2 linked regions of the Homo sapiens genome follow. The protein of the gene in region 1 purifies or fractionates together with the protein of each later gene. This does not show direct contact. Each region holds a gene or a part of one and is shown in the gene's direction. Other genes may lie near its edges.

Evidence for each region. The genes of interacting proteins can lie anywhere in the genome.
Region 2: the proteins of PLD2 (region 1) and CDH5 purify together in Homo sapiens (affinity purification with mass spectrometry; 3 studies listed by BioGRID and IntAct, with this or other methods). This does not show direct contact.

The regions. Positions count from the first base shown.
Region 1 is NC_000017.11:4,817,035-4,820,781, forward strand, and holds part of PLD2 (phospholipase D2), read left to right. Parts: coding exon 1-21; intron 22-41; coding exon of another isoform or gene 42-111; coding exon 112-225; intron 226-967; coding exon 968-1,072; intron 1,073-1,262; coding exon 1,263-1,351; intron 1,352-1,459; coding exon 1,460-1,573; intron 1,574-1,739; coding exon 1,740-1,789; intron 1,790-2,049; coding exon 2,050-2,184; intron 2,185-2,394; coding exon 2,395-2,548; intron 2,549-3,747.
Region 2 is NC_000016.10:66,369,670-66,373,416, forward strand, and holds part of CDH5 (cadherin-5 preproprotein), read left to right. Parts: intron 1-3,487; exon of another isoform or gene 3,488-3,548; intron 3,549-3,747. UniProt on the Homo sapiens protein: Cadherins are calcium-dependent cell adhesion proteins. They preferentially interact with themselves in a homophilic manner in connecting cells; cadherins may thus contribute to the sorting of heterogeneous cell types.

The DNA.
Region 1 (3,747 bases):
CAGCGCTGGAACTTCACCAAGGTGTTCATTCCCTCCGATAGGGGCTGGAGGTAGGGAGGGAGCCAGGGCAGATTGGCACCTCCTGCTGACTCTGCCATCCCTCCACGTCAGACCACCAAGGCCAAGTACAAGACTCCCACATACCCCTACCTGCTTCCCAAGTCTACCAGCACGGCCAATCAGCTCCCCTTCACACTTCCAGGAGGGCAGTGCACCACCGTACAGGTGAGGCCCCCCACTTCAGCCAGCCCTCCCCTTTGTCTCCTTCAGCCTAACACCCCAACCCACTCTCCCTGGTGTGAGAGCTGCCCACACTCTCCTTTCCTGGGGTTAAGAAGCACATCACGGCCAGGCACGGTGGCTCACGCCTATAATCCCAGCACTTTGGAAGGCCAAGGCAGGCGGATCACAAGGTCCGGAGATCGAGACCATCCTGGCTAACATGGTGAAACCCCATCTCTACTAAAAATACAAAAAATTAGCCGGGCGTGGTGGTGCGTACCTGTAGTCCCAGCTACTAGGGAGGCTAAGGCAGGAGAATCGCTTGAACCCAGGAGGAGGATGTTGTAGTGAGCTGAGATCACGCCACTGCACTCCAGCCTGGGCAACAGAGTGAGACTCCATCTCAAAAATAAAATAAAAGGCCAGGCGCAGTGGCTTACGCCTGTAATCCCAGCACTTTGGGAGGCCGAGGCAGGCGGATCACGAGGTCCGGAGAGCAAGACCATCCTGGCTAACACCATGAAACCCTGTCTCTACTAAAAATACAAAAAATTAGCCGGGAGTGGTGGTGCGTACCTGTAGTCCCAGCTACTTAGGAGGCTGAGGCAGGAGAATGGCGTGAACCCAGGAGGAGGAGCTTGCAGTGAGCGGAGATCATGCCACTGCACTCCAGCCTAGGCAACAGAGCGAGACTCTGTCTTAAAAAAGAAAAGAAATGAAGCACATCGCATTCACCATTCCCTAGGTCTTGCGATCAGTGGACCGCTGGTCAGCAGGGACTCTGGAGAACTCCATCCTCAATGCCTACCTGCACACCATCAGGGAGAGCCAGCACTTCCTCTACATTGAGGTCTGACTGGGAGGAGGTGGGGGAGAGCATGGAAGGGGTGTCCCAGGAGAGAGACCTGGGGAATGAGTGGAGTCAGTCATTGAGGGCTGGTGGAGCAGAAGCAGACGCCTGGAGCCTGGGACCAAGGCTGGAGGCCGAGGACAGGGCCAGGGGCCAGGCTGCTGATGTCTGTCTCTGATTCTTGCCCCAGAATCAGTTCTTCATTAGCTGCTCAGATGGGCGGACGGTTCTGAACAAGGTGGGCGATGAGATTGTGGACAGAATCCTGAAGGCCCACAAGTAAGGTGGACTGTCAGGAAGGTGGGGACTGTGGGTGTGGTTTGAGCCCGGTTGAAGGGGGTGGGGTTTGAGGGACCAGTCGCACCTCTGACTCCACCCCCTCCCCAGACAGGGGTGGTGTTACCGAGTCTACGTGCTTTTGCCCTTACTCCCTGGCTTCGAGGGTGACATCTCCACGGGCGGTGGCAACTCCATCCAGGCCATTCTGCACTTTACTTACAGGTGACCCCCCAGGCGGACTCCAGCTCTCAGTGGCCCCATCCCACCCGTGTCCCCCTCCTGATTCTGTCCTGATCCCTTCCTGCTGGGCCTTAAAGAAGGGCCACCTCTCCTGACCTCCCCTCCCCTCTGCCAGCCTCCACTTCTCTCCCTCTTTCTTTTCTCTCAGGACCCTGTGTCGTGGGGAGTATTCAATCCTGCATCGCCTTAAAGCAGCCAGTGAGTGCTGGGGGCTGGGGGCTCAAGCCCTGGGCCCCTGGGAGAGGGAGATTGGGGCGCTGCAGGCCTGGGGGTGGGGGAAGGAGGCTGTCACTCCTGTGAGCCTCTGACGCTACGCAGACCATAGCTGGCCTTTCACTGCAGGGAGAAGGAGAGAGACCAGACTCTATGTAGGAAGAGTTTCTGGAGTGAGAGGAGGTGGGACAGGGCCCTGTGCACACAGAGCCACCTCTCACCTCACTTCCCCTCCTGTCACGCAGTGGGGACAGCATGGCGGGACTATATTTCCATCTGCGGGCTTCGTACACACGGAGAGCTGGGCGGGCACCCCGTCTCGGAGCTCATCTACATCCACAGCAAGGTGCTCATCGCAGATGACCGGACAGTCATCATTGGTCAGTGCCGGATCTAGTCCTCTGGCAGGGAGAGGGTGTGGGGACAGGCGAAGAGATGAGAGGCAGGATGACAGAGACTGCAGCTGAGGCTCGTGTAGGGGTGGAGGGTCCAAGAAGGAATGTTGCAGGCCAGTGCTTTGGTAGAGGGGATGGGGTACTGGGGAGAGTGCCCTGGGCCCAAGCACACAGTGTGCCCCGCATCCACCCCAGGTTCTGCAAACATCAATGACCGGAGCTTGCTGGGGAAGCGGGACAGTGAGCTGGCCGTGCTGATCGAGGACACAGAGACGGAACCATCCCTCATGAATGGGGCAGAGTATCAGGCGGGCAGGTTTGCCTTGAGTCTGCGGAAGCACTGCTTCGGGTAGAGCTGGGGCGGGATGCCACAGGGTGGGAGGGAGATGGGGGCGTCTGCCTTTTGAGCAGGACAAGAGGTAGCACCGCATAGGTACTCCCGGAGCCAGAGGTAGAGGCAGTACTAGATTCTCAATAGGCAAGGCTGGGCGCGGCAGCTCACGCCTCTAATCCCAGCACTTTGGGAGGCCAAGGCGGGTGGATTGCCTGAGGTCAGGATTTTGAGACCAGCCTGGCTAACATAGTGAAACCCGTCTCTACTAAAAATACAAAAAATCAGCTGGGTGTGGTGGCGGGCGCCTGTGATCCCAGCTACTAGGACTAATCAGTTTAGAGTATCAGTAAAGCAGGAACACCAAAAAACAAAAAGAGAAAAAAATCTTTTTTTTTTGAGACGGAGTTTTGCTCTTGTTGCCCAGGCTGGAGTGCAATGGCGAGATCTCAGCTCACTGCAACCTCTGCCCTGGGTTCAAGCGATTCTCCTGCCTCAGCCTCCCGAGTAGCTGGGATTACAGGCATGCGCCACCACGCCCAGCTAATTTTGTATTTTTAGTAGAGATGGGGTTTCGCCGTGTTGGTCAGGCTGGTCTCGAACTCCCGACCTCAGGTGATCCACCCACTTCAGCATTCCAAAGTGCTGGGATTACAGGCGTGAGCCACTGCACCTGGCCACGAAAAAGAAATCTTTTTTGTTGTTGTTGTTGTTGTTGTTGAGACACGGTTTCACTCTTGTCGCCCAGGCTGGAGTGCAATGGCACGATCCTGGCTCACTGCAACCTCCGCCTCCTGGGTTCAAGCAATTCTTCTGCCTCAGCCTCCGGAGTAGCTGGGATTACAGGCGCCCACCACCACGCCCAGCTAATTTTTGTATTTTTAGTAGAGACAGGGTTTCGCTGTGTTGGCCAGGCTGATCTTGAACTCCTGACCTCAGGCTTCGGCCTCCCAAAGTGCTGGGATTACAGGCATGAACCACCGCCCCTGGCCAAAAAAAAAAAAAAATCTTTTTTTTTTTTCTTTTTTTTTGAGAGGGAGTCTCACTGTCGCCCAGGCTGGAGTGCAGTGGCGCGATCTCGGCTCACTGCAGGCTCCGCCGCCCAGGGTTCATGCCATTCTCCTGCCTCAGCCTCCCGAGTAGCTGGGACTACAGGCACCCGCCACCTCGCCCGGCTAATTTTTTGTATTTTTAGTAGAGACGGGGTTTCACCGTGT
Region 2 (3,747 bases), on another chromosome or scaffold:
TCCCTTTAGAAGGCAAGGGGATAGACTAGATGACCCGGAGCCCAGAGATTCCAGCACAAATTTGTTTCACATCACAAAATAGGTCTGGCCAGTTGGTACCCTCTACCTTCATTCAGTGGGAATGAACTTGAACTCAGCCCCTGAATCCTCAATACAGTCTATGAGGATCCTCAATACAGTCTTTGAGTGATTGATTCGTGATGTCTGCCATAGGTGTGGAAAGGGGCATGTGGCAAGCTGAGTTCTGTTTTGCCAGCCCTGTCTTAAGAGGTGCCCTGCTCAGGGGTGTTTGCATATTCACTGGAGACTTTTTTGTTTGTTTGTTTGTTTGTTTGTTTGTTTGTTTTTGAGACAGAGTTTTGCTCTTGTTGTCCAGGCTGGAGTGCAATGGCGCAATCTTGGCTCACTGCAACCTCCACCTCCCAGATTCAAGCGATTCTCCTGCCTCAATCTCCCAAGTAGCTAGGATTACAGGCATGTGCTACCATGCCTAGCTAATTTTGTATTTTTAGTAGAGACGGGGTTTCACCATGTTGGCCAGGCTGGTTGCGAACTCCTGACCTCAGGTGATCCACTGGTCTCGGCCTCCCAAAGTGCTGGGATTTACAGGTGTGAGCCACCACACCTGGCCAGGGACTCTTAAGAAGGATAATTTTGTTGTCAGTAAAGGATCAAAATCCTATCGGTGGTCTTTTGGGCAGTCCCATGGCAGCCTATCCCATGAGCCATCAGAGGACCTATTTGGGAACAAGGAGGAGCTTCTTTAAGTTATACCAACAATTGTACCTACTCTGACCACCCTACGTGTTGTCTGAAAATATACAGATTTGTTTCTAAATCCTGTGAGTGGGGAAGGAGTGGGTGACAAGACCAGAACTGGAGCTGGCACCAGGCTGACAGGCAGCACGTCCAGGTCTAGGGCCTTGAGTTCATGCACCCAGGTATGGCATGAAGTGAACTCTTAGGCCCAGAACCTGCCTGGGCAGATAGGCCAGGAGGCAGAGGCTGTGCTGGTGGCAGGTGGCAATCAGAAGACCTCATGGAGTAGGCAGTGTGGGCCTTGAGAAGAAGTAAAGCGTTAACCCAGGAAACACAGCAAAGAAGAGCATTCCAGTCAGAAGGAACAGCCTGGGCAAAAAGCCTGCTGCTGAGAGGAAGGGCATTGTGCATTTCAGGAACTCCTAGCTCTCCTCGAGGCTGGAAGGGGCAGGGAAGTGGAGGAGAGGAGAGCTGGCAGGGTGGGCAGGGGACAACCATGCTAGGCCTTAAGGGCTGGCTGAGGAGCTAGACTTCCTCCAGCAGGGAGTGGGGAGGCTGTTGGCAGAACCTGCAGGGAGAGGAACAGGTCTGGAACCCACAGAAGCCTATCCCAGGGCCAAACTGAGCCACAAACCAGGAGGAAGCAGAAGGGGCCAGGTCATAGCTGCCTGGCCAAACCCCATTCCCGAGCTCCCAGGGCCTCACCCTTCATCCTCCCAAAGTCTGTGGCCGCCAATACGCAACTTTAAATGCCTGAGCTCAAGTAGACCATTTGAGAGTCCCCACAGAGTTTGGGGGTCACTGGGTCCCAGCCCCAACCTGGACTGAGATTTGAGCTGTGGAATGGGAAAGCGGTGGGGAGAGCTGCCCAGGGCCACACACGGAGCTGGGTCTTCAGTGCCCCCACTCCAGCAGGCACACCTCCTGCATGTTCTAGGCCGGCTCCTCCCAGCGCCCTGCCCCTCATCCCTGACCCCAGGCCTCTGGGCTGGAGTCCAGAGGCTGCAGGAGGCTGGGCTGGGATCCTAGCTGAAAGCGGGTGTGCTGGGGGTCAGGGAGGAGAGCAGCCAGGCCTGCAAAGAGGAGCCCTGCAGGAGTTGGCCTGGGCAGGTGCCTGTGGTCAGGGGTGTGCACTTGTGAAGGCATGTTTGAGGGTGTCACAGGTCCATGAGGCCTGCAGATGTCATGTGTGTGTCCTGGACCTGGAGCCTTCCTCTGCCCCACCCCTGAGGCCCTCCAGCCTATTGAAAACCCCCTATACTGCAAAGCCCAGACTTGGCCCCTGGAATCTAAGGCTTGAGTGGGGCTCTGGTCAGGTCGAGGGGCAGGGGGTCCTCCTGGTGCTCAGGGGCAGGACCAGCCCAGGGGCTGAGGGGCTGGACCAGCCCATTGAGGGGCCCCCAGCTGGGTCCAGACTTCCTATGTCTTATTTAGCTACAAAGCCAGGGGTCCCAGGCAGTCCCAAGAAAAGCAGCTCTAGCCCTTCCCCTCCCCGCCCTTCCCTTCCCTTCCTCTTCTCTTGTATCCCTAGCCTCTCTTTTTGACACTGTAACTCAGCACAGAGCTGAGCCGATCTCACAGCCCCTTGGAGGCAGAACCCCAGAGAGATGGACGCCCACAAAGGGAAAGGGACCAAAGGGAGCTTTGTGTGATGTCCCACAGTGGCTCAGTGAGAGGCAGGACTCACTCCTGGGACTGTGGTCCTCAGACCCATCAGGGCCCTCCCAGTCTGTATGCTCCCACAGCCTCCTCGATTTGTCCATCAAAGCACATGTCACAATTTCAAACTGCATTTTTCACCACATGACCGGCATCCCTCTCTCCCACGGAAGTGGAGCCTGTGTTTATTCCTGCATGGAATTAAGTGCCTGGCACATAGTAGATGCTCAATAAATGTTTGCTGCATGACTGTATAACCCCAGGACTCTAGAGAGAGCTTCAGAGAAGTGGTGACATGTGTCCTAAATCCAGGCAGAGGAGAGAGGACAGCAAGTGCACGGGCAGGGAGGATGCAACCAAACCTGGTGGGGTGGGGAGCTTCCCAGAGAGTTAACGTCCTGTGGGCCGGAGCTATGCCTGGAGGCTCACCAGGCACCTGCAGACCCAGACAGGCAGCTGGAGAGGAGCAGAAAGAGCCGCAGGAGCCCCAACCTTTTCTCAGGCTGCCCAGGTGACTCAGCCTTCGGAGGACCCCTCGGTCACCAGGCTTGGCCTAGGTGTCTAGGTTCTGATCCCAGTGGCCCCACCCACGGTAGATACAGACCTGGACCCCAGAGGCCTCTGCGGTCCCAACCTCCCATGGGAGCATGGTGGAGCCCAGTCGTCCCCCTTATTTTCCAAGGCTCCCCTGCTGTTTAATCCTGGGCTCCACGCCCACTCACCAGGGGATTCGGGCCACTCACTCCGTCCTCTCATTTTGGGTCCTCCAGACCTCCCCAGACTGAGGGAGGGTACAGAGGGCCCATCCTCCTCCATTTGGAACTGCCCCCAAACCCTCTCACATGGCTCTGGGGACAGCAGCATCGATAAGCATCCTGGATGCCTGGGACACTGCAGGTACCTGGCCTCGGCGTGCTCAGAACCTACATCTGAGTTGCCAAGCGTGGCCCCTCCCTGCTCACCACTGTGATCAGGCAGTTGCTGGGCTGCTCAGCTGGGAATTTCTGAACATGGAAATCACTTCCAAAATCCTCAGACCCTCTGAATGTCTGGGGTGCCCCAAATCTACCTGGCAACAGCTTGAGTCTCTCTGGAAACTGCTGAGAACGACCGAGAGATGTGACTCTTACCTGCCGAAAGGAAACAGGCTAAAATGAAAAAAGGGCTATGACCACATCTCCAGAGGCTGCAGCCAAGAGAAATTCAGTTTTCAGCTGTGGCTGCAGTAGATCTGACTGGCCCGGTTTCCTCTGCATCATGATGGGAAGGAACATCTGTCCAACAAGACCCTTCCCTGCAGCCCCCATTTTGGTTAGCCAATTTTTTTTT